Linked DNA regions of Homo sapiens. The protein of the gene in region 1 interacts with the protein of each later gene in a biochemical or structural test. Each region holds a gene or a part of one and is shown on either strand. Other genes may lie near its edges.

Region 1 (9,084 bases):
GTTTTGTTTTGTTGTTATTGTGTTTGTTTGTTTCGGAAGACTTAGGGGTAAGAGATATTTGAAAATTGACCTCTGGGGCCAAAAGGAATTAACTGTAGTACCTTGGGGAGATAGGACTTTTATCCTAGAAAGAAGAAGTAATTGTTGCTAAAATTGAGAGAATTTCAAGCCGTAAAATCTGAAGTTAACTCTCTGGGTTACAATAATTAATTTGCAAACATTTGTTAATTGCCTCCCGCATCTCAGATCCACTGTACCTTTGGATAGGGGACAGGGAATGTTGAGAAGGGTTGGAGGTTCAAAGAATGCTAAGTCTTAGATCCTGGCCAGAGGTGGATCATGATCTAGAAGGAGAAAAGAGGAAATATGTTACTAACTGTAAAAATAGTGAAAAATGATTAAGTGCTGAAAAAGCAGTATTCCTGCAGAGCTGTGGGAGTTCACAGGGTACAAAGTGACTTCTGATGGAAGAATTAGGGAAGGTTACATGGGATATAGCATTTGAGCTGTGATTAAGGTGGCATTTGGGTTGGCAGAGAAGGAAGGGCATGCTTGGGGGAGGAACAGTGTAGCACAGGCCTGGCAGTGGAAGGTGTATGCCTACACAGGAAACAAAAAAATGGTGTGCTTTGGCTGAAGCGCTAGGAATGCCAAGAGATGTAATGAGGGATAAAGCAAGAAAGAGAGGTTTGTTCAAGGTGGTGGAGCAACTTGTACGCCAAGCTAAGGAGTGTGGATTTTGTTCAGTAAGGACTGGGGAACTATAGAAGATTTGTGAGGAGAAAGATTGACAGTATCAGAACTGTGCTTTGGGGCAATACTTTTGTAGTATTATGTTGGATGGAATGACATGGGAAAAGGCTGGCAGGAGGGAGACCAGATAGACTCTATTGTCAAAGTAGGGGAAAGATGGAAAGAGGCAGTGGGAGGCAAGAAGGGAACACACCTAAGAGGTGGTGTGCGGGAATTATCTGAGGAGCTTGAACAGTCACTGGAAAGTGAGGAAGGGAAAAGGGAGGCCAAAAGATCATTGTCAGGCTTAGCTGAGAGAGCAGTTGGGTCATTTTCAGAAAGAAGATATAACAGAGGATAAGGAAGAGGAGAGAAGTTTCTTTTTGAGCATGACAGGCTTGTCCAAGTTAAGGGACTAGAATACAGAGGGAGGTTAGAGCTACCAGGAGATTTGTAGGTCATCTGCTTAGGAGCGATTTTCATATCCCAGGAATCACTGATAAAGAAAATGAAGAAAGAAGAAGCAAAAGTAAGGATAGGATCCTTGAGGGATGTCTGTATGTTGGAGGGGAAAGAGAAAGAAGAGGACAGGAACCACGTTAAACAAGGGGCAATTGGAGAAAAATGATGGAAGTGAAGTGGTACAGTGTCATGGAAGCTGGAAGGGGTGAGGAGAGCCCCTGTCACTCACACAGCACACCCCATGGGTGACGGTGCAACCAAGGCAAAGCCATTGGATTTGACTCTTGGATTTCCTTGATTGTCTTTGTGGTAGGTGGAAGTGGCAGCCAGGGGCAAGGGTTGAAGGGAGGCGTGGGGGAAGGGAAATGGAAAGCAGTGAAAACAGACTTCATTTTCAATAAGTTGGGAGATAAAAGAGAAGGAGAGAGAGTATGATATATCACAACAATGGTGTAGTAGAGGGAAAGTGGTATTTTTAGTATAGGAAGACTTGAGCCTGCTTTATAAGCTGAGGAGAACAATCCATTGAGGGAAAAAGAGATTGAAAATGTAAGGGAGAGGCTCAATTGAGGGAATTAAGTCTTCAAGAAGATGGGAGGATACTAGATGAAAGCAAAGGAAGGATTCTTTTGAGACAGAAGCATAGGAATTTTGAGGTGGAAAGAAAGGAATTTGGCCACAGTCTTTTAAGTGAGGTCAAAGAGAGGTGGGCAGGTTGAAGCCAGGAGTAGAATGACAAAGACTTGTGGGCATTGTGGAAACAGAGCAGTGAGTCAATTAGGAGTGAATAAAAGATCATTACCCAACCATGAGGACCTCATGTGTTTGAAAAGCAGGAATTTGTAGTGAAACCAATTAACGCTATATAATTGGAGTTTGACAACTACTTAAGTAATTTTTGTATAGTGAGCATTTAATCTCACTAAATACAGTGGTTCTTCATTCCCTTAAATGCAGTAAAAAGAGGAGAATGTTTACCTTTAAAATTATCCAAATAAAAGACTCCACTTGTATTTCCTGTAAATATTCTCTCTCAGAGATCTGAGCTAAATTTTAAGAAGTTTATAGTAAAACAATGGGGAAAAATGTAAGTGTTTTTTTAAAGGATGAGCTTTTTCTATCTGTAATGGTAGAATATGGTTTTACAGTGACGTACATGTAAAGTCAGTTTTCAAAAGAAAAATCAAATATAGCACCTCGCCCAATACCATACCCATCATATGCATTCAATATACATTTGTCACATGAATACATGAATAAACTTTTTTTAAGTAAGCTAGCAACAGTATCTAAAATTTTAAATTTCAGGATTTCATTCTTACACAATGGACATCGAATGAGTTGCCTTTTATGGCCTGTGCAAGTTTATGATAGCATTAAAACTATTTATTCATACCTGATATATACATTGAAGCTTTATTTTTAAAAACCCCACATTTTTCACAAAATGATTGTGAACCCTTTAGATCCTTGAGTTATGGGATTATGTCATGATTCCAGGTGAGTTTATGGAACTTCAACTGTAATGAGTGGTGATTTTGAGGTTTTAATGATGAAATTTATTCATTCCTTCAACATACACTCATTGAACACTTTCTCTGGGCCAGAAACTATTCTAGGTGCAAGGAATATGGGGTGGGGGGAGGCATGTCCTTAATATCACAGAACTTTTAGTGGAAGGAGATTAAAAATAAATAAATAAGTAATTACATAATATGCCAGGTGGTAAGTGCTATGACGAAGAATAAAAGAGAGAGAGCAATGGACTGATGATAGTGGGTGGGTGGGGGGTGACATTAGTTTATATAGTATGGTCAGGGAAGACCTTAAGCAGAAAGAGCTGAAAGATGTGAAGTAGTGAGCCCTGCAGATATTTGGGGGAAGGGTCTTCTAGGCAGAGAGGATATCAAAAATGAAAAGGCTGGATAAGAACATGTTTGGCATCCTCAAGGGACAGCAGGGAAACCTTATTGGTTTCCTTGGTTTACCTGGAGCAGTCACTTAGGGAATTCACAATAAAATGCTTTGCCTTTCATTTTCAATTGTTTGCCCATAAGGCTGTATTACCATCTACTGTATTTGGGCTGACCTATGAATCAGTACTGGGTTTATATAAAGATGAATATCCTCAATCAAATGTATTTAAGTTAGAAAACAATCATGCCTGTAATCCCAGCACTTTGGGAGGCTGAGGCAGGCAGATCACTTGAGGTCAGGAGTTCGAGAGCAGCCTGGCCAACATGGCGAAATGCTGTCTCTACTAAAAATACAAGAATTAGCCGGGCATGGTGGCGCATGCTTGTAGTCCCAGCTATTTGGGAGGCTGAGGCAGGAGAATTGCTTGAACCTGGGAGGCAGAGGTTGCAGTGAGCCGAGATCACATCAGAAAACAAAGCGTGATTCTGTCTGGGTAGTGATGAAATACTAGTCAGCTGGAAGTAGTTCTGCTCCTTGGAACTTACATCTCTTCTGTGTCCTGAATCTTCTTTAAATATTGCTCTCTTTTCTTCTTCCTTGTTTCATGTTCCATTCTCAAGTATAAGATCCTTGAGGCTAGAACTTTGTTTTGTTCATCTGGGTATACTCTATAACACAGACTGACTCTCTGCATTAGTAAGGGTTTATCAAATACTTACGGAGAGGAATTGATGAGAAATTTCCAAAGATTTAAGTAACTCAGGTGTAAAGAATGAGGGTAAAGCTCGTTTACCTTGATTTCTGCAGATAGGTAGCTGTTTTTCAAACAGGACACAGAATTGCCATAGGATGCTAAAGCAGTTTATGCATGCAGACCCTGAGATGAGGACTTGAGTTCAGAATAGTTTATCTGAGAGACAACCTCAAGAAGCACAAGTGAGAGAATGGAGAAAATGACACAGGAGAGGGAAGAAAGCCCATTAAGAGGTGAGTTAATGAGCAGGTTACCACGGTGGGCAGCTGAGGCTTGGCTCTGCTGGCATTATATAGACTGCACATTAGGATTGTCCACCAAGCAGTGGAGAAAGTGGGGTCTTTATCCACCATTTCCCTAGGGATATTAAATCTTCAGTACTTTAGGGCTGCTAAGATTAGCCTGAGCAAGCTCCAGAGACACCAAAGAAAGCTCTTGAGCAGAGAAGCAGAGAGGCAGAGCCAGGTGGAAGTGGGAAACTGTCAGTGTATTTGGAGACTGTCGATACAGCTATAGCTGAACTCAGAAGTGGACATGGGACCCCTGTTTAACACAGCACAGAGGTATCATAAAGAATTTTTAACAGATAATAATTGGTTTGATGGCAGTTATTTTAATTTAGGGATTTTAATGTATTGTGACAACTGCCTGCAGTTCTGTTCACTCACAAGCCAACTATTGGCCACCCTCAGTTATCTGAGGTGCAGAGTACTATATATGCTCATGTGTAAGATACGCTCTGTTATAGGGTGGCCCTCAGTTTTCCAACAAGAGCGTTTATAAAAAGACTTTATGTCAACTTGAATATGCATATTCTAGGAATATAGGCAAAGAGTGAAGTATCTACTTATGTTTAATTTATTAGTTTACTTTCATATAATTGAAGTCACATTATATAAAATTATTAATTTAGAAATATGACATCCTTCCATTCTCACATTTTATGAAATCATTTATTCAAATACTTCACATACTTTTTTGACTTTAGAGTCTTTGTCATGATTAGGCCACTTTTGTCATGTTCATTTCTATCTAACTTTTTTGAGATATAGTACTTCTTGAGTTTCTGTATGATGCTACCACCACAAACTTTATTCCAAACCCTGTGTGCTCATTCACTTAATGTAAGAACGTTTGTTTTATCCTTTCTTCCTAAAGGAGTATATTTATGATCTCTGCAACCCAGCACTTCTGTATGTCTTGTGTAAAGACATCCAAGACAAGCAATTGTAAAGCTCCTTCCCAGGAATATTTACTTCAATTGGTGTTAAAATCATGGCCTCCTTTACTCTGTATTCATTCAGTCATTTATCTTCTTTCAATTGCATAGCCTTCAGAAGTATCCCTATCTTGTGTTGATTGAGTTTATTTCCGGCTATCTTCTCCAAATAGTTCTTAAGTAACCTCTGAAACACACAACTCCTTTTCATGAAATCTGCAGTCTTACCAGGTAATATGTTTTTTCATGGTTTCTCTCTTTAAAATCAGTTGCCGTCACATCCAGCATTAGTGAATTACATGGCTTTCAATTTCTGTTATCTTGGAGGTAACAGGGTTTTTGGCATTCAGAAGAAGGTAATTAAGAGAATACCCCACAATATGGGAGACTTTGTAAGCATTTATACATAAGGCAACTTTCTCTTTTCTGAAATACACATTTTGGAGGACAGAATCTCATCTTTTTGTATATGTAAAGTGATCACAGGAGGTTGTCAAGGTATGGTGGCAAAACCAATCCCTACACACTAAGTTTCCTTTTCAGCCTCCTCTTCTGTTCCATGTGGATTAATTAGCATACAATTTGTATGAAAAATACAGCAAATACAGCAATGATTTATTTCCTAATGGAATTAATTGGCCACCATTCCAAATAATGTAATCGTTATGTTTCTGACTATTGATAAATTTTGTATCTCGAGATCAATTCTGCATTTATTAACAGGCACACTTTATTTTAAAGAAGGATAATTGCCAAAGTATGTATAAATTCCTTTTTCTTGTAAATTGTAGCATATTTTAAAAGCAGAGGACGAGCTTAGAGTCATTTAAGGAAATTCCACTTAACAAGAATAATTACCCCCTACATTGGCTATTCAGTGAATTTGGACTTTTATACTGGACTTTACTAAAGTGGGTTGCATTCTGTTGCAGTGGCTTTTACACACTTTTGGCCATGATTCCTGGTGAGAACACAATTTAGATGATAGGCTAGCAACATAGATGAATGTGTGTAAACACATATACACACACACATACATCACTGAAACAAGTTTCACTCAACAATACTTGTCCTTTATTATGTGTAATCCACCCTGATGCTTCCTATCCTATTCTCTTCTGTTCTGTATGTTTGCCAACCCACTGAAGTAATCTCTGCATTGGTGAACCCTAATATGCAGTTTAGAAAACACTGCTGTATTGTATTACATTTATCAGAAGAGTGTTTATTTTCTTATAGTATGAAATAATTTCATGTCAAAAGTTGTTTTTTCGTTTTTTGAATTGTTAGCATATTTGGATATTTGGTGGTATGGACAAATGATGCAGTAATCACAGAGAGAAACTTTATTTTTGAGTAGACATTTTGTTTCCAAAAGAAGAAATTACATTAGTGTGGAAAAGGGAAAGTGGAGTAAGAAGAATAGATTTGTTCTTAGATCTGTGGCTTTCTTGGGTTGTGGGGACCGTGTCAAGTCACTGGGCCACAACCTCCTTGCTGAGCTGGTTCCTCACGATTCTTTCCTGTCCTTCACTCTTCCTGCCCCTCTTCCTAGCTGCTGTCTCTTAGCCTCTAGAGTTCTGGATGTTTAGTTAAATTACTTAATTCTAAATTTTAACCTAATATTATTTCTTCCCAGATGTGAAAATAGTTTCTACGCCCACTTCCCTTCCAAATAACTTGAAAATATAAGAATCATTTTTCCCTGAGCTAGTACCTGGAAGAGTTCTCTCCTAAAGGAGCTAGAATTTGTTCTACAGATGAAATGTTTCCATAGTATTAGGTCATATGAAAGCTTAACCTAATCTTATGTTCAGGTATGATTGTGTTCTTTATGGCAGGCTAGCTATCAAAGTACACATAAATTCCTTTTTTAAAAGCTCAGCAGATTCCCCATCCAGTGACTAAAAACAAGTTACAAAGTGTCAGGCATTGCGCTAAGTACTGTACACAGCTAACTCATTTACTTCTCATAATGACCTAATTTACTCTTCATAACCACATCAGGAGAGAACTTATATTGCAGATTGGACTTTGAGGTTCTCAGAGGTTCCTCAGTGGCTACAAAACAGGACAAAGGGGATTTGCCTCAGGTCTAGGCACAGGAATGGGCCCAGACAGTTGCTGGTCCTGGAGTCTATTCTGTCCTCTGGGCCCAGCAGTAGCTTCCCATCCCCACTGCCCCATCTTGACTCTCTTGTTTATGATGCCTTCATCCTACTTGGGATGTCTGTGTGTGTGTGTGTGTGTGTGTGTGTGTGTGTGTTACTGTTTGTCTTAGTCCATTCAGTGTTGCTATAACAGAGTACCTGAGGCTGGGTAACTTACAAAGAAAAGAAGTTTATTTGGCTCACAATTCTGGTGGCTGGAGAGTTTAAGACCAGGCAGCTGCATCTGGTAAGGGTCTCATGCTGCTTCCACTCATAGTGGAAAGTGGAAAGACAGCGAGTGTGTGCGAAGAGATAACATGGTGAAAGAGGAAAGGAGAGAAAAACCAAGGAAGCCAGATTCTTTTTAACAATCCACTGTCTAGGAAACTATTCCATCCTTGCAAGAGTGAGAACTCATTCATCACTGCAGGAGGACATTCATCTGTTCATAAGAGATTCACCCCCCATGACCCATGCACCTCCCAATACTGCCACATTGGGGATTAAATGTCAACATGAATTTTGTGGGGATGAACCACATTCAGACCATAGTACTGTTGCACCGACATCTCTCCATTCTTGGCCCTGTGGGGTGGCAAGGACTCAGAATGAGCTGGAATACAGTGCTGCCATAATTAGCCATCAACAGTGAACAAGTCTCCAGGTTGGTCTGAGCCTCAGCTTCTCCAGCTACAAAAGGGGAAATGATGAAACCTGCCCTTCCCATCTCTTCCTGCACAGGGCCGCTGGGGTCAAATAAAATATGAAAGGGTACAGAAAAGTAAGGTAGATGTCTCACTTCCTTCATCATGACATTGAACGAAAGTGACTCCCTACCTAGTTCTAATAGCTAGTGTCTCTTTCCTCTAAACCAGAAGTTGACAAACTTTCTCTGTTTAGGGCTAGTAGTAAATAGGTTTTGTGGGCCATATGGTCTCTGCCACAACTCCTCCACTCTGCCCTTGTAGTGCAAAAGCAACTGTACACAATATGTAAACCTATTAGTGTGACTGTATTTCAACCAAAGTTTGTTTATGGATGCTAAAATTCAAATTTCATATCATTTTTGCTTCACAAAATGTTGATTTCTCATTTAACTTTTTGCAACCATCTAAAAACATAAAAAACATTCTCAGCTCCAAGGCAGTACACAAACAGGCAGTGGGATGGATTTGTCCCACGGACCTCAGTTTACTGACCCCTGATCTAAACTCTCACAGTGCTTTGTACCACTCTGGATTCCAGCAGCTCATGCTCATCTTTTCCATCTCTCTTGTCCTTTCAAAATATGCACCCACCCACACACTCATTTTTTCATCTCCCTTAACACTGAGAAAGATAATAGCATATGTATAGTATGCCCCCCACATGTATATTCTATATGCCCAAGAAATATTTATTGAGTAAATCAGGATTAAAAATCTGTTGCTTTTGTATGTTTCCTGTTTTTTCATCTTTAAAGGAAATTCCACCTATTCTCTAGTAAAGCTTTGGGAATGATTGAGTTAAGATTTTGTGATTAAATATAAGGCTTTGAGATTCTTGCCTTAAAGTATTTCCCCCCTCTGTTATTAACCATAAAAGGAAAAGAATGTCAGGGAGGACAGAGAGGAAAAGCAAACAGACAAACAAAACCAACATTTCAGCATGAAAAGCGCTTGTTAGATGATAACTAAAGTGGCCAGATGTTTAGCTTTGCTCCCTTGGGTATCCTGCCACTATAGGGAACTCTGAACCGGCTGAAGTGTTTCATGCCTCAGCTGCCAGCAGCCCTTGGTGATATGCTTTCCCCAAAATTTAACATGGGGGCCAGAACTCCATGCATTTGACTATAAATAAAGAGGACCTCA
Region 2 (5,419 bases), on another chromosome or scaffold:
CAGGCATGAGCCACTGTGCCCAACCACCCTGTCACATTTCTAATGATCAAAAGTTTTTACTCCCTGTTCTGGGAAATTGGAGAGGCATTTCTTATAGAGTCCATTGCACAGTGCCATGCTTATGCTCAGTGATTAGTAATCTGCTGCTGCAAATCAAATGACTCCAAAGTTAGGAGTTTAAAACAACAAACATATACTGTCTCTGGGGCAGGAATTTGTGTGTGACTTAGCTGGGTGCCTGCAGCTCAGGGTCTCTCTCGGGGCTGCAGTCATCTCAGGGCCCCACGTGGGGAGAATCTGCTTCCAGGTTTGCTCATGTTGCTGTTGGCAGGCCCCAGGTCCTCCTTGGCTGTTGGCCAGAGACATCAGTTCTTTGCCACATGGGTCTCTCCCTAGGGCAGCTAACAACACGGCAGTTGGCTTCTCTCAGAGTGAATGAGCGAGAGAGAGAGAGATTGAGATTGAGAGAGGGCGTCCAAGACTCAAGCCACATTCTTTTTGTAACCTAATCTTAGAAGTGACACTAGGTCCAGCCCACACTCAAGGGAGGCACATCATAGAGGCCATTCGCCTCATGCAGCCTTGAAAGATGATGGGCAGGAAGTAGGCATTGAAGAGGGTAAGAGTGGGATTGGCAAGCCCAGCAAAAGAAACTGCCCGGGCAAAGCCCTCAAGGCATGGAATGGCAGGGAGTGTTTCTGAAGGGCAGGAGCCTGTCTTGTGACCTGTGTTTTCTTCCTGGGCCCCAGGTGGGGCAGGGAATCAGAAGGGGCTGGCATCAGCAGCTGTACCTCACCCAATCCCTTAACTTAGACAAGGAAGAACTGAGCAGGAGCTGACCAGCCAAGGCCACGGTGACTGGCAAGTTGCTGTTGGGTTTTAGCATCTGCTTTTCCCAGGTGGAAAAGAATTCCATGTGGGAATTTGCATTCAAGCCTGGTTGTCCCTTGCACATCTCCTAACTGATCTCTAAGCTCCCTTCTGTTCTCTCCTCACCCTGCTCCAGTCTTTACTTTTCATAGACTGCACTAGAAGGATTGTTCTGAAGCCTGGAGTAACCAGGCCATGCCCCTGCCTGAAACTTGTCTTGGCTCCCAGTGCCTGAGAGTACAAGCTGGGCCTAGCTTCTTGATGTGGACATTCAATACCCCACTCCCCCTGCCTATTGCCCCTGCCTGTGTGCTGAGGAAACAGCCTGGAAAGGCTGCCTTTCCCTGAACTCCTGCTGGGTCATGCCTCCAGCCACACTGTCCAGGCTGCCCCCTGCCTTGAGGCCGCTCCTCCAGCCGGGCACAGTGGCTCACGCCTGCAACCCTAGCACTTTGGGAGGCCGAGGCAGACGGATCACTTGAGTTCAGGAGTTCGAGACCAGGCTGGCCAATATGGTGAAACCCTGTCTCTACTAAAAATACAAAAATTAGGCCAGGTGCAATGGCTCATGCCTGTAATCCCAGCACTTTGGGAGGCTGAGGCGGATGGGTCACTTGAGGTCAGGAGTTTGAGATCAGCTTGACCAACATGGTGAAACCCTGTCTCTATTAAAAATACAAAAGTTGGGCCGGGCACAGTGGCTCATGCCTGTAATCCCAGCACTTTGGGAGGCCGAGGCGGGCAGATCACAAGGTCAGGAGATCGAGACCATCCTGGTTAACATTGTGAAACCCCGTCTCTACTAAAAATACAAAAAATTAGCCAGGCGTGGTGGCGGGCGCCTGTAGTCCCAGCTACTTGGGAGGTTGAGGCAGGAGAATAGCGTGAACCTGGGAGGCGGAGCTTGCAGTGAGCCGAGGTCGCGCCACTGCACTCCAGCCTGGGCGACAGAGCAAGACTCCATCTCAACAAAACAAAACAAAACAAAACAAAACAAAAGTTGGCCAGGTATGGTGGCGTGCTCTGTAGTCACAGCTACTCGGGAAGCTGAGACAGGAGAATTGCTTGAACCTGGGGGGTGGGGAGGTTGCAGTGAGCCCAGATCGCACCACTGCACTCCAGCCTGGGCAACAGAGTGAGACTCTGTCTCAATAAATAAATAAATAAATAAATAAATTAATTAATTAAAAGAAATACAAAAACTAGCCAGGCGTAGTGGCGCGTGCCTGTAATCTCAGCTACTTAGGAGGCTGAGGCAGGAGAATTGCTTGAACCCGGGAAGCAGAGACTGCAGTGAGCCGAGATCACACCATTGCATTCCAGCCTGGGCATTGCAATGAGACTTTGTATCAAAACAAAACAAAACAAGCAAAAAAAACCGCTCTTCAGGGCTCTGTATCCCCTCCCCCTTCTTGATCTTTCTACTGTTCAAATCTCCAACGCAGGGCGTAAAAAAAAGTACCAGGTGCAGGCAGCAGATATCCCTCTGGAAAACGAGATAAAGCAGAACTGCCACTTCTTCCTGCCCATCAGTTGGTGGCACAGTGAGATGCCTGGTTACTCAGCAGCAAGGTCATGGGAGCCCACCTGTACTGGCACAGGCACTTGTTTCTGCCCAAAATGTCAGGTTGGGGACAATTTATTTGCACAGATGTGGGTTTCTGTGGCTCACTAGTAAGGCCTTGTCACCCCAAAACACACCAACTGTTGTATTCACCCTGTGTGTCATCACCCCTAGTCTGTTCTGTATCTGGGCCCCCACCATGTTCTGAGTCCCTTGAGGATGGTGACCTGCATACTCCCTGCCATGTTGGGTAGTGTGTCTGACCTAGGAGGTGCTCATAGGTGTGTTATGACAATTTTTATTACCGTCAAAGGAGAAGGAGGGCAGAGCCAGCTTCGAGGGGCTAGGACAGGCCCTTTGCCCCTTGCATTTCCTTCTGTTCCTGGAATCTGGGAGTCAGGGAAATGACACTGGCTGCCTATGATGGTCAGGGAAGCCAAGCTTGGCCAACTTAAGCCTATAGGAATTGAAGACAGCCAAGGGCTCACAGAGCCATCAGGAGGCTGCACAACTGAGCTAACTGGAGGCTGAGAAGCAGAGCTGGGCAATTGCCTCGCCGGAAAAACAGTCTGATCCAATGGGAATGACTGCACAGGCAGGGGAAACTTCCACTGGCTCTTTTCAGCCCACTGTCATCCTGCCCAGGATTTCAGTTCCAGGGAGGGAGTGTTCAGATGGTCCGGGACTTCCTGGACCACTTTCCACTTCCAGACAGGGCCAAGAGGACCTTGCCTGCCCAGTCCTTGGGGAGCTCAGATCCTACGAGACTGGTACCCACAGGAGGAAATGGGTACTTTAGGGAAGCAGGAAGAGGCGTCGGAATCAGGAAATCAGAAGATAGCAGCTTGGCACCACGTGGCACACATCCCCTATACACACACTGGATCTCATTCCAGCACCGCGGAGACCTGGGCAATGTCCGTGCTGATGCTGACGGCCGCGCCATCTTCAGAATGGAGGATGAGCAGCTGAAGGTAAGGTGGAAAAGAAGGTGGGCACCCTTCCTAACAGGGTCCATCATCTGAAGCTGTCGTCTCCCCTCAAAGGTGTGGGATGTGATTGGCCGCAGCCTGATTATTGATGAGGGAGAAGATGACCTGGGCCGGGGAGGCCATCCCTTATCCAAGATCACAGGGAACTCCGGGGAGAGGTGAGTGGTGTCGGCCCCTGTAGGAGGCTGTGCTCTGCGGATGGTGCATGAGGAACCCAGGGGTGGGGGCCAAACAGGTACCCACCCCTGACCACACATTCTTCTGCAGGTTGGCCTGTGGCATCATTGCACGCTCCGCTGGCCTTTTCCAGAACCCCAAGCAGATCTGCTCTTGCGATGGCCTCACCATCTGGGAGGAGCGAGGCCGGCCCATCGCTGGCAAGGGCCGAAAGGAGTCAGCGCAGCCCCCTGCCCACCTTTGAGCAGGACCTCACCTTGGCTCTGTTGCTGTCCTCCAGGGCGAGCACTTTCCACTTCCAGAGGGGGCCAGAGGGACTTTGCCTGCCCAGTCTTTGGAGAGCTCAGTACAGGGCAGGAGCTGCTGTGGTGTTCCCTTGGCAAATGAAAGTTTTATTTTCGTTTGGGACTTGGTGTTTTGTGCTTGTCTCCATGCCCCTTATGGGCTTGGTGAACATAGCTCTGCTTCTTTCCTTTGTATCAGGGCCACCCCTTAGCATTGGAGCCAAACAAACCTGAATTCAAACCTACACACACACTGAAGTCCCCATCTTCCTCCTTGGAGCCATAATGAAGAGCCACTACAGTCAAATTTCTGTTTGTGGCCTCCCCCAACCCCTCACTATGGCTGATTGGAACCAAAATGGACACCTGACCCATGGTGGCCCATGCTTTCCCTGAGAAATCAGGGCAGATCCAGCTTTAGTTTTTTCCTGTGGTTGGACCCATAACATGGGAATATGGGAAGTTTTGGTGGCCCTCTTCTCCCTGCCTTATTGACTGAGCATCAGAAAAAGCCAGTCGGCTAAGGAGGAAAAATGAGGCAGGGAGAATCTAAGAGTTGCTGGAGAATCCCAGTCACTCTGGAGTCCCCTCTCTGAGCCTTTCGTGAGGCCAGCTGCCTCCTGCCTGGGATTGAAGAGATGCTCCCGAATCCTCCTAATGCATCCCCCTGTTAAAATAATCTGGCTTGAGGCTGGGCACGGTAGCTCACACCTGTAATCCCAGCACTTCGGAAGGCCAAGGCGGGAGGATCTCTTGAGCCCAGGAGTTTGAGACCAGCTGGGGGAACAGAGTAAGACCCTGTCTCTACAAAAAAAAAAAATTTAATTAGCTGGGTGTGATGGTGCATGCTTGTGGTCCCAGCTATTTGGGAGGCTGAGGTGGGAGGATTGCTTCAGCCTGGGAGGTTGAGGCTGCAGTGAACCATGATCACGCCACTGCATTCCAGCCTGGGCAACAGAGCAAGACTCCATCTCAAAAAAAAAACAAAACCAAAAACAAACAAACAAAAATCTGACTTTATTCCTTTCAGTCATAAGTAAAAATTATCAATTAACATAAGTGAAGTGCTTGGCACACAGCCTGTCATATAAAGTTAAGGGAGCAGCAGCTATGATTCTGAGGCTGCGTGGGACCCTCGGAGGCAGCCCTAGCCAAGCTCCCCTTTCCTATGGTTGGATGAGCTGCTAACCAGGGTACAGTTTGTGGGGCCTCGGGTTCAGAGCCTCCCTACTCGTCTATTATTTCCCTGTACCCCCATCCCCATGGGGTGCCTTGCTCATCCTTGACAAAGCTGCTTTTATGACAGGGTAAGCTGGCAGACTACAAACTTTGCCCCAAGCTGGCAGACTACAAACGTTGTCCCTACACTGCCTGCTTGGAACTGGGTGGGTGGTTTCGCAGTTAGTTGTCCTTGGCTTCGAGGCAGAGCCCCTGGCTCGGATCCCATTCCCCAGTCCCTGTCTGTTTTCCCTTTCAAGGCTGTGGGTGGGTTCCACCTCTAGCCCCAACCCTTGGACTCTGCTCTTTCTTGC
Region 3 (8,977 bases), about 30 Mb from region 1:
GTGCCAATCACATCTTTGTCATTCAGAAATCCAGGCTAATTTGATTTAGAGACATACATAAATGAACTGTTATTTCTCATAACTGTTTTTTTTTCAGCCTCTTTATTTTTAATCTACATCTCTTAGGTAAAATGCATCAATTTAACTACATTTACTTATTCTGAGTTTTTCTATTGGTCCATGTTTCCTTTAAACACAATTTTGAATGGTTTTTTAAAGTAACCATTTGATTTTGAAACCAATTTACAGAAAACATGGAAGAACTACGCTAATATGCTGTATCACCCCTGAATACTTCAATGTACATTTCCTACAACAAAGATGTTCTCCTATATAACCATAATATGATCATCCCAGTCATCATGGATAAAGTTCCAATATTTAATCCCCAATCTTGTTCAAGTTGCACCAATTCCCAATCATGTCCTTTATAACATAAGCATTTAATGCAGAGTAGTATTTAGTTGCCTTGTTTTCTTAGCCTCCGTCAATCTGGAATGCCTCCTTCCTCACTCCACTCAACCTCTGACAACTTGCTATAGGTCACCACCAGTGCTGTCTCCTGTCTCTCCAGGTCCCCACCCTTGCTACACTGTGGATGCTTTCCTTACCCTGCTGGTTTCTGAATGCTCTGCCACGGTCCTGGGCCTCCCCACTACCCAGCATGGATGCCTAAGCTGAACTGAATGACCTTGGACTGAATTGTTCAAAAAGAGAAGGGGAGAGGAAGAGGAAGAAGAACGCCAAGTAATTTGATTTTTCTTTTTTCATGATCAAACCAATGTCTTGGAATTGATTATCACTTCCATGGGCTACTTATGCTCCGTACTGTTTGTATAGAGTTTGGTGAAAATGAATAAAGGCAACTGAACTACATTTTTTGGTTTTTTTTTTGAGACAGAGTCTCACTCTGTCACCCAGGCTGGAGTGCAGTGGCACGATCTCAGCTCACTGCCTCCTCACAGGCACCTGCCACCATGCCCTGAAATTTTTTCATATTTTTAGTAGAGACGGGGTTTCACCGTGTTGTCCAGCCTGGTTTCGAACTCCCGACCTCAACTGATCCACCCACCTCAGCCTCCCAAAGTGCTGGGATTACAGGTGTGAGCCACCGCGCCTGGCCTGAACTCCATTTTTTATAGAGTACCATTTGACACTAAAATTAAGAGTCTGTTACTCATCTGCAGAATCTCTCTTTAAATGGTATTACTAAAAGGTCCAAAATGAAACATCTGTAAAAATAATTATTCCTACACTCTGTGAGATCTCTTTCCTGACACATTTCACATCTAAGTGAGTTTCCTAACTAACCCACACACACTCTATAGTAGGCTTACCCTTCTTTCCCCAGGCTGGCTGGCGAACTTGCAAAACATAACCATTTAGGGGAAAAAATTGAGGCAATTAAAATTAAAAGTGTTTTAGGCTAAGTAATGAATAAATTAACCCACTGAAAAGTTACATCAAAGGCTATTACTCAGCATTTTACCAGTTACAGGAATTTCTGCAAAATCTGCCCAGCCATTTGTTTGTGTATCCCTGGGATCAGTGCCCAGCGTTCAATCTTTCTCTTGATGCTTCCTGCTGTTTTCAGGGACTCAATGAGAGCAGTAAGTGACCTTTCACTCACTGCAAGTCTATGGGCACTGAAGTTAGGAAAATATTTCCCTTCATGCAGAATCTTCCTAACAAAGCTTTCCCATGTATTTGTCGGGTCAAATAACATTCAGATAAACTGCACATAATCCCCAAAATGCCAAATGTTTAGAAAGCTTTTTTTTTTTGAGACAGAGTTTTGTGTTTTCCTCTTGTTGCCCAGGCTGGAGTGCTATGGTGGGATCTCGGCTCACTGCAACCTCCATCTCCCAGGTTCAAGCGATTCTCCTGCCTCAGCCTCCCGAGAAGCTGGGATTACAGATGCCTGCCACCACGCCCGGCTAATTTTTGTATTTTTAGTAGAGACAGGGTTTCACCATGGTGGCCAAGCTGGTCTCCAACTCCTGACCTCAGGTGATCCACCCACCTCGGCCTCCCAAAGTGCTGGGATTACAGACGCGAGCCACTGTGCCCGGCCTATAGAGCTCTTCCCATGAAGAGCCATTTCATGCCATCATCAACAGGTTGCCTTCGTGGGTGGCCAATGTGCTTCTCGAAAACCAGCTGTGAATAACGTGAGCAACTCATGGTGTCTACATGAGAAGGAAACTTTTAGATGTCCTTATTGACTTTCTTCTTGGTATTGAAGGTGGTATAATTATTACAGTTACATAGTTTTATCTGGAAGAATTACTTGATCTAAAAGGTAATTTAAAATTAGTAAAATTTATTAGATATGAGGATACTAAGTTTCATCAACGAAAGAAGACTGAAAACACCCACAGTAGTAGTATTGAAATTTCACGTGTCACTCAGCAACTCGCGAGAGTCCCGTCTGGTGCTGAGTCCATTTGGAATATCTGTCCCTGCCCTCCCCTCCTCCAAAAAGAATGTTCACTATAAACGAGAAGAGCTTAATTTCTATGGGCTTTGTAATCCTTCCACTGGATTCCAAGCAAAATAACTACCAATACAACTAATCCTGAGAATAAAAAGTAATCACAACTATGCAACAAAAACAGGAAAGGTGGTGGCAGGGTCTCACTCAGATTTCATTGCTTTGCTTTTCTCCAGGAAGGTCTTTTTGAAGCCCTGTTTATTCAATAGTAAGAGTGACCTCTAGTGACTTTTTTTGTTGTTGTATTTTGCCAGTTGATTGGTCAATTACTCTAGCATGCCTTTCTATAAGTAGCTCATTTATATGTTTGTTTAAGCCAAACGGCAGTTTCCATTACAAGACCCAAGGATTTTGATTTAAGTAACAACGTTTTATTCACAAAGCCTTCTCACAAAAGCAGATTAAAGTTGAATCTGAAACACGGTACAGCATCTGACCAAAGGAATCCGGAGCTTGTTTTTTGGAAGGGCACACCAAGTGTAGGATTAACTGAGGCGCAACTGAATCATGATGCACAGTGAGTTCATGAACCCATGTGCGTGCCCTGTGTGTGAAGAACCAACCCACCCTTGAGCCCGCGGGCAGAACAGCACTGAGCTACGGCAAACTTTTCATGACAGCTTAGGAGAACTGCTGAAAGCTACCCTTGGTTATCCTGCAATAATCTAAATTTCCAAACATGGCCACTGGCGTTTATTGGAACTTATTTCGAAAGAGATTTTGGTAGGAGAGGGCTGAGGCTGACAGCGGGGAGATGCCACTGAAAGAAAAATAAAAGTGATTTGAGAAGGAAGAGGAAGACATTTTAAAAATTCTAATCTCATGGTTTGATTAATCAAGAAAGAAAGACAACTCTCTGCTAGAGATTTACTCCAAGCCAAAAAAAAAATGTGCAATGTTGTGTAAACATTTTTATGTGTGATAAAATATGGGTACATTATGTTTTGCTCATCTGTCTGGAATATCATCATTACATTAGAATCATAGCCCATTCTAGAAATAAAGGCTTCCTAGGTGTTTACCAAATTAAGGAAAATAAAAAACAGGGAACCTGATGGCAAATTAAATAATGTAAAATATTAGCATCCAGAGAGGAATCATTTTCAAGATCACCTAAATGACTGGCTGAGTTTTGTCTTTAAGCAAGAACTTTCTACTATGAGAAACGAAGCCCCTGACAGGGGTGTTCAAGTGTTATTCCCTTAGTAGTTAGGACAGGTTATTAATTTAGTTTCACCTACAGGCGCTCTGTCCCTATACTGCATGGAAGTTAATTAGCATTTTAACTCTGAAGCTGCCAAGGTCGGCAAAACTGTAAGCTGCTAACATCTAAGTTGATGCAGTATGATGTAATGTCTGCCAGTTTTTTCCCTGTTAGACTTAATTCCTACAAAATATTACAATCCTAAAAAGGAATAAATGACAGCATTTGCACGCTAATCTCTTATTAAGATGCTTTTCAGGTTTTACAGAAACGTCCACTTTCTCAATGAATATTCAAGTACATCGATTAAAAAGTCAAAACATGCATGGTATATCTTAGACTCCCCCACAAGAGGAAAGTCTATTGTAAACAAAATCGTCTTTTTCGGGTTGCAATTCCAAATTTTTTTTAAGGTTCTTCATGTTCAGGAGCATGTTCTGCAATTCCACTTCCAAATATTACCGATAATAAAAAAAAAAAAACAAAGTTTTCCAGACAGCCTAGCGCAAGTTTTAAACCATTTGCTGTACTTACGTGGATTTCCTGCTCCCACGGGGCTCCAAGTCTGAGTGGGGAGAAGCAGCAGCACCTTGAGGACGGCCCAGGCCACTGAAGCCATGCTCACTTCAGCCAGGCGCCCTGAGACCCGGGCACGGCGACGGCCGCTCTGCGTCGCTCCTGCTCTCACTCCCGTCCCCTGCGCGGCTCTGACGCTGCTCTGCCTCCCCTGTCCAGTCTCTAGCTCTCTTCCTCACGCACCAGCAGCCTCCCTCGGCGCTGCAGACCCTCCCGCCAAGCCGCGCCCGGCCCCAGCTGCGTCTCCGAGGTCGGCCCCGCGGACTCGCGCCGCAGCTTTCTGGAGCGCTCGGGGCCGCGCGGCGCCACCCCAGGCACGGAGGCGGCAGGTTCAGGCGCGTCCCGGACACTAGGCGCGGGAGGCGGCCGGCAGCAACGCGAGTCAAGAAGCGAGCGGGAGGGACGCCCCAGCTCCGCCTGGCGCTCTCCTCCCGTTATACCGGCAGCTTCCTCCGTCCCTCTCTCCCACCGGGGCGGGGCGGCCGCGGTGCACGGACTCGCGCCAAAGACCGCGCCGTCAGCCTCCGCCTGCAGGTGGAGAACGCCAGGCTTTATCACTGCGCTGTTCACCCAACGCAGGGGCTGCACCCAGGAAAATGCTGTCCTGTTTGAGTTCAAATAGGGAAGATGGGGCAGAAATAACTCTGCGGCGTGTACTTGGGCAGACGCGCGCACACTTTGATTTTGCTAGGAATTCTGACTTGTAGAGAACCAAGCTGGGAAACCGGGCCAGGAGCAGGGAGAGGCCGGTGAGCCTGGGTTGTGCGAGTGCAAGCCTTTATTTAAAGTTTTAATATTTTGTCTATCATGGGTTTTTTTTTCTTTGCGATTACATTCAATTTTAAAACTATTTCATTCATTCAGGATTAGCGTTACTTAACAGTTGCTCCTGAGACTAGTGCGTTAGTCCCTTCACCCTAGTCCTGGCCTTGGTGGAAGTCTAAAATTTACGTTTTATTCCAGCTTTCTGTCCAAAAGAGCAACCCCTGCAAGTGTAGGATGAGGAGCTCAGTCCAGCAGCAGCTAACACTGCACTCCTTGCGCGCCTACTGTGTGCTAGAGGGAGGGGCGGAGGCAGGGGGCGGGGGGGGGGGTCTTTCTCTTTTTCTCTTCCTCTGCTTCTCAAATTCACAGTAGGGGCAAAGATTGACAAACTCACTCACATTACCACCACCGCGAGTTTCCAAAAAAGAAAAAAGAAAGAAAGATACTTTTTTAGATGGTATCTCTAAGAAATAGTGTATTAATCTTCCCTTTAGAAAGACAACTTTGAAAGGCTTTTTCATTAAAATGAATTCAAATGTAATAGATGTAAAATGTAAAATGAATTCAAATGTAATAGATGAAGAATCTTACAAAGTCATTCTTGAATTATTAATTGGGTTCACTTAAACTACTTTTGCACAAGAACTCTGTAAATAGCACGTCTTTTATTACAGAAAAAATTATAAATCTAAAGTTTTGATTGACAGATCAGTTGCCTTCAGTGAGACAGAAAGAGAGAAAATGGAAATCATTTTCTAAATTGGACCTAGAGTAAAACAACAAATGTCAATCTATTATTATACCAATTTGTCAGGCATCAGATGGAGTCTTTAAAAATGTGAACTTGGCCGGGTGCAGTGGCTCATGCCTGTAATCTCAGCACTTTGGGAGGCGGAGGAGGCCAAGAGGTCAGGAGATGGAGCCCATCCTGGCCAACACGGTGAAACCCTGTCTCTATTAAAATACAAAAAATTAACCGGGCGTGGTGGTGCCTGCCTGTAGTCCCAGCTACTCGGGAGGCTGAGGCAGGAGAATTGCTTGAACCCGGGAGGCAGAGGTTGCAGCAAGCCAACATTGCACCCTGCACTCCAGCTTGGCGACAGAGCCAGACTCCGTCTCAAGACAAAAAAAAAAAAAAGTGAACTTGGGTGTTCAAAGTGTTAGGCTTAATGGAGAAAGGCCAAGAAACTTCTACGGTGGTAGACATTTGCAATTAAAACAAAATGGCTTCATTAAACTGTAAAATCACTAGCGTAGTGAGGGTGCATGCATTTTTTACAACATTGGAGGAATATATTTATGAATATTATTCCCAATACATAAAATATACATTTTACACACTTATAGGTACACTCAAAATTTGTTCCAAATTGTTCATGTCTAGTAAATGTATATACACTATTTTATATGGTTAAGCCAATAAGCATCAGCATTTTCTTCTAAGACAGGAGGCTTGTAATTGTTTTGATTCCCCTGCTTTTGACTTAAAACTTATTTAGGTTTATTCTACTTAAGTTGTTTGGTTAGGGGACTTGAAGTCCTTAAACATAAATGTGTGTCTTGAAATGCATTTTATGTGGCTATAATTGCTGCTATATGGTTATTATTTAAATCAGCATAGACACTTGCTGTGGTGATAATGCTGGCAATGAACTTTGCAGACTAAGAGTAGTGAGGCTCTAAAAATTACTTTGCCTAGTAGAGAAGCATCCGTCACAATCATCACACACTACACACTTACTGAACAAATGAAGACATGAATTCGAGATGGCCGATGTAACTAGAACACTGGATGTCCCAGAAAAAATATCGAATATCACAAATATAAATGTTTTATGTGTTGCTGCTTTATTTCCTTTCTTCCCTACTTTCCATGATAATGCAATTTAAACTTTGAAACTTCTTACCTTCTATTTAACCTTAACATGGATAATAAATACAATTATATTTTTTATTTCAATCTGGATAATGGTTGTATGATTCAACCAGAATAAGAAAGGAATAAGATCTACTTTGCAATAGCACATATTTAGGAAGTGAGTATATTTATATTGGAACAAATGATGATACTGAGGTGTGTTTGATGACTAGCTTCTGGATTATAAGAATGTAAATGTTTGTTAAGACAGACTCTTTTGAAATTTGTTCTTGAATATTTTGAATTACAAAAGGAACATTTTTAAAAGAATTGTATAAAGAAAATGTTAATAATTGCCACTACCATCACCCCAACCCCACTGAGGTAACCAATGATACAAAACAGGCTGACAGGCTGGTATGTATCCTTATGTATCCTTGTTTTGGCTCTTCTTCTTCTTTTTTTTTTTTGAGACAGAGTCTCGCTCTGTCGCCTAGACTGGAGTGCAGTAGTGGTGTGATCTTCGCTCACTGCAACCTCTGCCTCCCAGGTTCAAGCAATTCTTGTGCCTCAGCCTCCTGAGAAGCTGGGAGAACAAGTGAGTGCCACCACACCCGGCTAAGTTTTTGTATTTTTGGTAGGGACAAGGTTTTTCCATGTTGCCCAGGCTGGTCTCGAACTTCCTGAGCTCAAGTGATCCACCCGCCTTGGCCTCCCAAAGTCTTGAGATTACAGGCGTGAGCCATCACACCCGGCCTTGGCTCTTATATATAAACACATACAACCTGTACATAGAGTTGTGCTTATTTTGTTTCAATAAGGTTTTACCTTGTACTTTATACTCTCATCCTGCAATTTTATCATCTCTCTTTGTAGTATACCGTGTGCATTGCAGTCTAAGCTAGAACTTAGTTTTCAGTTCTAGAAAATAGAGTGAGAATACAAAAATATAACATTTGCCTGCCAATCTAATAGCATTTTAATTCCTAAATAGATCTACTTTCACAAATATGCTACTTCTCAAAGAATTATTTTTCTTATGATATTTTTCTAAGCAATGCAATGTGATATTAGTCAGATTTTTAAAATGCACTACTGCATTAGTCAAGGCCCAGAAAGAAAGCATGATTTGCTCAGATAGTTTAAAGGGACAGGCTGAAAAGAAAAGTGAAGGGACCCACCAGGTGACATTGTGGCAACCAAAGACAAGCACTAGCAGAAAGCCTTTACTACCTACAGCAGAGGCGCAGAGGGAGGAACGGTTGCTGCCAGATCCCCAGAAGGCAGCAGCCGGGGAACACAAAGGTCTGGCAGGAGCCACAGTCATAGAAGTAAAAGAATTTCTTGTCAGAACCTGGAAACAGGAGTGAGTAGGGAAGAAACTTTTTGAGCTCTGACTTCTGAAACCTTACTGTTTCTGTGGGTGTCTCTCATTAGCCAAAACCAACTGGAAGTCAGCTGGGAGGGGAGCAGGGTGACACTCGAGCAGGAAGGGTGACACTCGGGCAGGAAGGGTGACACTGGGGCTGGAAGAGTAGAGGGTGGTTCTGAGGACCTCCACAAAGAATGGCCAGCACATCCTAGAACACTGACACTTACCAAATTTTTAAAAAAAGTTTATTTTTGTTTTGTGCATTCATGTTCTTTAATGAATGATTTATCAAGTAATGGCTTGGAATAGAAATCTAAAGCTTTTATTTTTTAAATTGTGAACCGAAGTAATCGTACTTGCTAGAAATTAAACCAGAGCTTTGAGGTCAAATAGTTTACTCTTTCTTCTGTTTATATTAACAGGGAAGATTAATTGTGCCGAATATCGTAGTTTTGAATGGAGCTTTTTATTAACTTCAACATCAGGAAATCACCAGAGTCCACCTACCTTTCCTTATTTTTCACAGAAATAGAAAGATTGATGTTCTCATAGAGCAAAAAAGATGAGGTCTCACTTCTTGTGGCCTTCTGACATCCATCAATATTTTAGGAAAACAATTCTCACATTTCAGGGCCAATTGGGAATTAAGTTGAGCTCAAATACAAAGGGAAATATTTTTTATTAAAACTTTTTTTGTGCGAAATGAAT
Region 4 (7,569 bases), on another chromosome or scaffold:
TGGGCCTCTGCACACCATTTCACTTATCTATGTCCCGAGCACCTTGCCCCAGATATCAGGGTCAGGCCCTGGGACTTGGGAGGGAACTGGGGTCAGGGGCTGCATGGGGGCTCTGGCAGCTCCTGGCAGTGTGGTGGGAAGGAAGCTCTGGAAGCTGTGACTGAGCAACAGCCTTGGGGGGCACTTGAACCCACGGCAATGCCTTTGAACTTGGCAGCTCTGGCTGCAACCCGCTGGCTCGGAAAAGATTTTATGAACTCCACAACCTGTCGTGTGGCTGTAGTCACTTGGGGCCGGCAGTAGGGGAGGAATTGGAACTACCAGTAAGCACCACTAGGGGGCAGTAGCATCGCACAGCCCAAGCTCTAAGCTGCGTGACCTGGTCCAGGATCTCAAAATAGGCCTGGCCAGGCCTAGAACCCAGGCCTCTGAGGCAACACCTTACACTAGCCCCATAAAGATATGGTCCCTGCCTCCGAGGGAAGACTCAGGAACCCTGCTAAGGTTACTTAAGGTGCCCCCTTTCCCGCTCCCTGATGCTCTGTGCCTAGGGAAACCCTAGGCAGAGTGGGGCGAGGGGGAGTCACTAGCCGACTAGGATGAGACTAGGACTGGGAATACTTATGAATGGGGAGAAAAGTGGGAGAGGGGAGGTCATTAAGACAAGTTAGGCCATACCAGTAAAATAGTTTTATTTGATTTTAAAATAGTCATCAATGTGAAAATTTCTCAAAGCTTAAGAGTAACAGTCTAGAGCCAAGGTTGGGAGTGGGGGCCAGGCCTCACACAGAGCCCAGCTTGAGGCCCCTGAGCCCCACCCTCCTTTCCAGAGGGAGGGAGGAGACAGCTGAGGGGGCCCTGAATCAGTCCTCTCCCTCGTCCCCAAGGCCAGCTGTGCCAGGCCCCTGGAGGGCAACAGCTCATGCGGAGGACTGGGGGGGGAAGCAAACAGGTAGGAAACGGAAATGAGGTTAACAATTACACCATCACCCCCAAAAAAAAACAAAATAACAAAACTTGTGACTATGAAAGGATGGAAGATGAATACTGATAAACTCCTCAGCTCCCCAGAAAAGCCCAGTCTGGGCTGGGTTGGGCTGATTGGAGGAAAGGTCTTGAGACCCAACTGCATGTTACCTCTGAAGAATAAATATTCTAAGAAAAAGGGAAAACCATGAGGCAAGCTGCTGCAGTCAGTCAACGCAGCTGACAGGCCTGGCATGGCCCACAACCTGACCCCATCCACACAGGAAACAGCTGTGCGGGTCTGGATAGAGGAGAGGTCAAGGGCTTGGACTGGGGACCCTGAGCTGCCAAGGTGTGGGGACTCCTTGCAGTCCTGGTGCAGCAATGGCAGGAAGGCCAGCAGGGGCCCTAGTTGAGCAGGTTGCCCTGCTCCTGGGCCTGGGTCAGGCTGTCCTTGCGGTGCAGGTGGTGAACCCCCATCCTCTTGGGGCTGCGCTGGGGGCGACTGGAGCTGGGGAGTGGCCAGGCCCTGCCCTCGGTGTGGGAAGTGCCTGGCCCCTCCTCTGTGCCCCTGTTAATGGGCAGCAGGCTCTGGCGCTCTTCCTCAGGACTGATAGGCAGGTTCAGCTCTTCTTCCTCCCTGGGAAAGCCAGAGTCAGGTTCTGTGGGTAGCAAAAGCTCACTCTCTTCGGGTCGGGCAGAAGGTGCCTGGACCACCTCATCTCTGTCAGCGGGGCTATGGGCAAAATGGCGCTGCAGCTCAGGGAGGGCATCGCGTCCAAAGGCTGTGCGCTGGGCCACAGCAGCAGGTGGTGGAGTACGGTCCACAAATGCCCGCTGCCAGCTGACCAGCAGGTCCTCTTCAGAGCTGGCAGAGCTAGCTGGGGCACTGAGTGTTAGGGGTGCTGGGCTGGGCTGGTGGTGGGGTGAGGCCTGGGCTGAGGCAGGGGTGCTGGGCACTGGGCTGGGGCGGGCCCGCTCACTCCCCTCCTCTACCAGGCTCAGGGAAATGGCCTGGCGGGTAGCGTAAGTGCAGTTGGGCAGGGGGCTGTTGCGGGGGATCCGAACCTTATCCTCAGAGAACTCTATTACCCTGCGGCCAGGATACAGTGGGTGTGGTGGAGACGGGGTTGGGTAGGGGTTCAGCTTCTCAAAGGCTGGCAGGGGCAGCTCTTCCTCCGGGGAGCCCCTGGCAGTACCCAGAGAGTGGCACTCCCCATTGGGTTGTGGGGTGGGGCTGCCAGGGGCCGGGGGACTGGCTGGATCACCTGGGACACCCTCACTCATGTCCACATGCACAAAGACATCCTCAGCCAAGGGGCGCCCGGCGCTGCCTGACTGGGCTGAATTGAGCAGTAGAGACTCCGGCTTCTCTAACACTCGGGCAATGACTGAGGTAGGCACCACAGCCCCTGGGGCTAGGCTGGGAGCAGGACCTGGGCTGGCGGCCTCTTGACCACTGTGCAAATGTTTCCGAACCATGTCCTGTAGCTCACAGGGCAGCTGAGGTAAAAGAGCAGGAAAGAGAGACATCAATGATCGCAGCCAAAGATAACTTGACTCATGGCGAAAGTAATGGCTCCCACCTTTAAGTACCTCTGTGTACTCAGCACTCTGCTATCTCCTGTTCTTACAGCATGCCAGTGTGTATACCCTCACTTCACAGACACATAGGCCTGGAGAGGGGAAGACAACTCAAAGCTTTGGTTAACTTGGCCAAGATTTAAACCCGGATCTGCTGCTGCAGCCAGCATGTTCTCAAACTTCTATCTCCCAGCTTCTGCCCAAACCATACTTAAGTTTGGAGAATCTGCATAGACCAGTAGCCTTAGAAATACCTCTACTTCTGGGCCGGGCACAGTGGCTCATGCCTGTAATCCCAGCACTTTGGGAGGCCGAGGCGGGTGGATCACGAGGTCAGGAGATCGAGACCATCCTGGCTAACACGATGAAACCCCATCTCTACTAAAAAGACAAAAAAATTAGCCAGGCGTGGTGGTGGGCGCCTATAATTCCAGCTACTTGGGAGGCTGAAGCAGGAGAATTGCTTGAAGCCGGGAGGCGGAGGTTGCAGTGAGCCGAGATTGTGCCACTGCACTCCAGCCTAGGTGACAGAGCAAGACTCCGTCTCAAAAAAAAAAAAAAAAAGAAATACCTCTACTTCTTCTACTTCTGCAGGCCACATAAACCTTGGGCCTGAAGCTGTGGGGTCTAGAGTTTACCCCTTGGGGTAACATGATCAGATGGGCCTAATCCTCTCTTAGTACTCTTTGGGCAGATAGCTCTGACTACCCTCTCCTTCCTGCCCAGGATCTTCTCTCTCTGTCTCTGTTACAGAAACCAACAGGGCTGGCCCCCCAGAACTAGTGATGGGCCCTGGACAGTACACGGGACACCAACCAGTGGCAGAGTTGACTGGCTTGAGAGGTGACATGGAGGCAAGAGGAGGGCAAAGTGGGAAGAGGAGGACAGAGAGAGGTGCAGAAACTGGAGTTAGAGGAGTCCTACAGTGGCCGGAATGGTCTATGTGGGCAGGGAGGGGGTGAGTTCTACTCACATCGGCAAACTTGTGGTTTCGGAAGTGGGACTTGTTGCACTTGAGGAGCTGTACAGCCAGGTTGCAGTCCAGCCGGTACCGCTCCTACAGACACAGACCTGTTTCAGAGCCCAGCCCAGCCCTCTCCAAGGAAGCAGGGCCGAGCCAGGACAAAGCTAGCCCCAGGTGAGGAAGGCCCGAGTAGTGAAGCGCACATACATTGAGCTCTTCCAGCTTGTTGATGGTGTTCTTGGCATCCAGCAGCTTGTTGGTCAGCTCCACAATCTCCCAGTCCAGCGTCTTCCTATCCATCTCAGCCTTCTTGATCTGAAGCACAGACTTGAGGTTAACCCAGCCCACACTCTAGCCAGCCCTTCCTCTCCCTCCACCTCCTCCCATCCTGGAGACACAAGAGGCCACAGGTGCTAGGGCAGCCAAGGCGGACAGAGCAGAGACAAATGACGGACAGACAGAAGGAGACTGGGCATCTCTCCCGCTCTCTGGACTGGCTGTGGGGTGGGGGCTTTCTTAGCATGACTTCCTGCCACCTGGGCCCAGGACACAGGCAGTATAAGAGCTGTCCATCCCCTGAGGTTCCAGGGGCTCTGGGCACCAGGCAAGGCAGCTGGTACCTCAACGGCAGTAACTGCAAACCAGGGGGCTGAAGCCTCCTATGTGTGCAGCTGTTTCCAGCATCAGGCTAGGAGAGGGAAGAGGAAGCAGGGCGCGGTGGCAGCCAGGGCACCTTGTTGAGCAGGGAGCAAGCTGCAGGCTCAAAAGTAGCCTTCTGATCTCCAGTTCAGGGACTGGATCTGCAGCCTCCCCTCCCCACTCCCACAGCCTGGGCTTGCTGCCACTGGAGCCAAGAAGCTTTGGGTGTTCAGTGGAGACATCAATCAGTACCTCTACCAGAGCCAAGGGCAGAGCAGGCTAGGCTCCCCACCTCTCTCCTGGGAGGGAGGCATTGACAGTTAAACGGGCCTCATACAGGGAAGAGAAAGGAGCGGGTGTACTCAAGGGGCACAGGGTAACAGCCAGGGCCCACAATCCCAGATCTCAGCTGAGGAGAAGGCCAGGGCAAGGGAGAAGACACACAAACTCAGACGCAACTGCAAAAATCCAGCTGTGGCTAAGAGAGGCCTGAGAGGAGAGTGCAGCAGCAACGGTGGCAGCATGAGGGGGAGACGAGGAAAGAAGAGAAACAGTGTGAGCATTAAGACAGTCTTGACTTGCAGAGCACACTGCAGTACCCCCACCACTGCCCCATCCCACCATCTCCCTCAAGCCCCAGGGCAGAGTGGCATTCCCCTGGCAAATCCTGGCCCCCTGCTATGCTATGAGCACAGTGCCCACCAAGCTGCCCTCCCAGACAGATTACCAGTGTGTGCAGCTTGTCCTCCAACTCCTGGTTGGTCCGCTGGGAAGCCGTGTAGCTGTTCTGCAGCCTGAAAAGGGATAATACAAGGCACATCCCTGGGTCAAGATCCTGTTCTTCAGGCTCTGTTCAGCCTCCCCGATAGGGGATCTTGAACATGTCATTCTCCCTCAAGAACTTCAGTTTTCTAATAGGAATTAGATGATCTCTAAGGCATCTTCCAGCTAACCTCCTATGAAAGGAGAGAGAGAGAGAGAGAGAGAGAGAGAGAGAGAGTGTGTGTGTGTGTGTGTGTGTGTGTGTGTCCCCGCATTCCCACACCTGCAGAACTTATCCAGTTTTCTAATAAGAATTAGATGATCTCTAAGGCATCTTCCAGCTAACCTCCTATGAAAGGAGAGAGAGAGAGAGAGAGAGAGAGAGAGTGTGTGTGTGTGTGTGTGTGTGTGTGTGTGTGTGTGGCCCCGCATTCCCACACCTGCAGAACTTATCCAGTTTTTTAATAGGAATTAGATGATCTCTAAGGCATCTTCCAGCTAACCTCCTATGAAAGGAGAGAGACAGAGACACAGAGAGAGAGAGAGACAGAGAGAGTGTGTGTGTGTGTGTGTGTGTGTGTGTGTGTGTGTGTGTGTGTGTGTGTGTCTGGCCCCTCATTCCCACACCTGCGGAACTTATCCTTAAATTTGTCCAGCTCCTCGCGGCTCTGGCCCAGCTCCAGCTCCAGGCAGTCCTGCCCAATTTCCAGCTCACGTTCCAGGGCCTCAGTGCGTCTGGTGGCGGAGGCCAGGCGCCGGCGAAGCTCTTCATTCTCCTCCTGTAAGAGCCTGGCAGGGTGTTGTGGGATCAAGGGCAGAGGGGTATGAGAGATAGAAGGGCATGCCCTGGAGCTCCAGAGTGGGCTCAGGAAGGAAGGGATGACATGAGGACAGGCAAACAGGACAGGGAAACTCCTGGAGTCTTAGTCTGAGTCTAAGGCAGCATATTTCATAGGCCTGCTGGCCCTGGGAACACAGCCTGGGTTGGAGGGTCAGGGGAGGAAGAGGGGATGGTAGGGGACAGTCCAGCCTCCCTTCACTATCGGAGAATAGAAATAAAGAATTGGGGGTAGGGATATGGCTCCCAGCCTGTCTCTGGTTACAGCCCATGTCAGCTGGCCACCAAGCCCCCAGCTCCAGTTTCCCCACTGCACAATCAGGCTTCTCCATTATTCATCTCTTGGAAATCCAGCCCAGCACTGCCCTCCTCTCCAGAGGCCTCATGTGGCTAAAGGGCTGTAAGGGTGGCAGCTGGTACAGGAGCCAGGAGCTGGGGAAGGGCTCCTTAGCAAGAAGAGCAGGGCCCTCAGAGCCATTCGCCTCCTGATTCTACGCTCTCTTGAAGCCCATGGAACAATAAAATCCCATTTTCCAGAAAAAATATCCACAACATCAACACTCCTCCCAGAGTCCCTAAAACAACCCATCCCAACCTTTATTTCTACCTAATCCAAGGGAAAGTCCAACTGTACCAACAGTCTAGCCTGGAGCTAAGAGGGACAGAGTTGAGGCAGGGCAGTATCTCAGGTAGCAGATACTCACTTCATCCTTTCTGCATCAGTCAGGGGTTCCTAGGCAAAAAAGAGAGGCTTGAGGCTCAGCTCTGGACCACTGGACCCCCGGCTGGCTCACCCTCCAAATAGCCACAAGAAGGCTCAGGTGTGAAGCCCAAAGACTCTTATAGCAGAAGAGGGCTGCAGGGCTCTCTACGGATGGAAGCAATTCAGTAATGCTGGGACAAGCCTCGACTACCCTCTCCCATGCCAACCAGAAGATTCAAGAACCTCTTCCAACCTTCACCCTTAATCCAATCCTAAAGCCATTTTCAAATAAGTCCTGGCACCCAAGCTACCTCTCCCCAGGGGCAGACAGCCTCTCAGCTGTTCACTCGGCTCCTGGTGGGTCCTGTATCCACAGAGGTATGGCAGAGACCTTCCAGAAAAGTCAGGCTGAACTATACACACGAGTTCTGAGCTCTGACAAAGCCCTCAGCCTTGAGATGAAGACAAAGGCAGAATCAGGCTCTTGCAGAGGCTCAGGAAGAACAAGTGCATGGGAGAAGAGGACTAATCCTGACTAAGGGGAGGAAGTGCCTTGTCTGTCTTTTAACCTCCTGCCCCATCTTCCCCAAACCCCTATGGCAGTCATGGCTCAAGAGTCAAGTTCAGCCAACCACAAAGCAGAGTAGGCCCCTGCTATCGCGAGAGGGAAACATCAAGGGGCCTATTCTATGTGGAACTGACTGCTTCAGAAGAGCAGCCTCTGGCAGAAAATGGAGGTAGGTGGCTTCCTTTGTCCATTGACTCTGACAACTGGATTTCACCCTATTCTACTGCATACTGATTATACAGCCTTCACCTCACCGAGCCTTAGTTCCCTCATTTATAAAACTGAGGTAATGCTCGCTGGGTAGCACCTAGCATAATAGCTGGCATCTTAATTTAATGTTCCCTGAACTGAAATGAGCAAGTCATGGCTTTTCTACCTTGAATCTGACCAAAGCAGGCTACAGTATGCCTGATGCTCAGCACATGCTGCGTCTCAGGTTCTTTAAATGTGCTCCACGCACTGTGACCAGATGGAGATATGGCTGCAAGGGCAGTAAACCACTGTGGCCCTCGTTTCTGCCTGTGAGTGAAGTTAATGGGGCAGGA

The links.
Region 2: the proteins of APBA1 (region 1) and CCS form a complex in vitro, tested with the Homo sapiens proteins (one study listed by BioGRID).
Region 3: the proteins of APBA1 (region 1) and CNTNAP3 form a complex in vitro, tested with the Homo sapiens proteins (one study listed by BioGRID).
Region 4: the proteins of APBA1 (region 1) and TJAP1 interact in a test that uses a peptide from one of them, tested with the Homo sapiens proteins (one study listed by BioGRID).

Annotation. Positions count from the first base shown.
Region 1 is NC_000009.12:69,660,288-69,669,371, reverse strand, and holds part of APBA1 (amyloid-beta A4 precursor protein-binding family A member 1), read left to right. Parts: intron 1-9,084. UniProt on the Homo sapiens protein: Putative function in synaptic vesicle exocytosis by binding to Munc18-1, an essential component of the synaptic vesicle exocytotic machinery. May modulate processing of the amyloid-beta precursor protein (APP) and hence formation of APP-beta.
Region 2 is NC_000011.10:66,602,009-66,607,427, forward strand, and holds the end of CCS (copper chaperone for superoxide dismutase), read left to right. Parts: intron 1-3,330; coding exon 3,331-3,408; intron 3,409-3,480; coding exon 3,481-3,584; intron 3,585-3,693; coding exon 3,694-3,847; 3' UTR 3,848-4,011; downstream 4,012-5,419. UniProt on the Homo sapiens protein: Delivers copper to copper zinc superoxide dismutase (SOD1).
Region 3 is NC_000009.12:39,283,748-39,292,724, forward strand, and holds the start of CNTNAP3 (contactin-associated protein-like 3 isoform 1 precursor), read right to left. Parts: upstream 4,421-8,977; 5' UTR 4,318-4,420; coding exon 4,233-4,317; intron 1-4,232.
Region 4 is NC_000006.12:43,499,661-43,507,229, reverse strand, and holds the end of TJAP1 (tight junction-associated protein 1), read right to left. Parts: intron 6,487-7,569; coding exon 6,458-6,486; intron 5,705-6,457; coding exon 5,543-5,704; intron 4,948-5,542; coding exon 4,881-4,947; intron 4,643-4,880; coding exon 4,613-4,642; intron 3,830-4,612; coding exon 3,722-3,829; intron 3,608-3,721; coding exon 3,524-3,607; intron 2,643-3,523; coding exon of another isoform or gene 2,622-2,642; exon of another isoform or gene 2,563-2,621; intron 2,470-2,562; coding exon 1,375-2,469; 3' UTR 676-1,374; downstream 1-675. UniProt on the Homo sapiens protein: Plays a role in regulating the structure of the Golgi apparatus.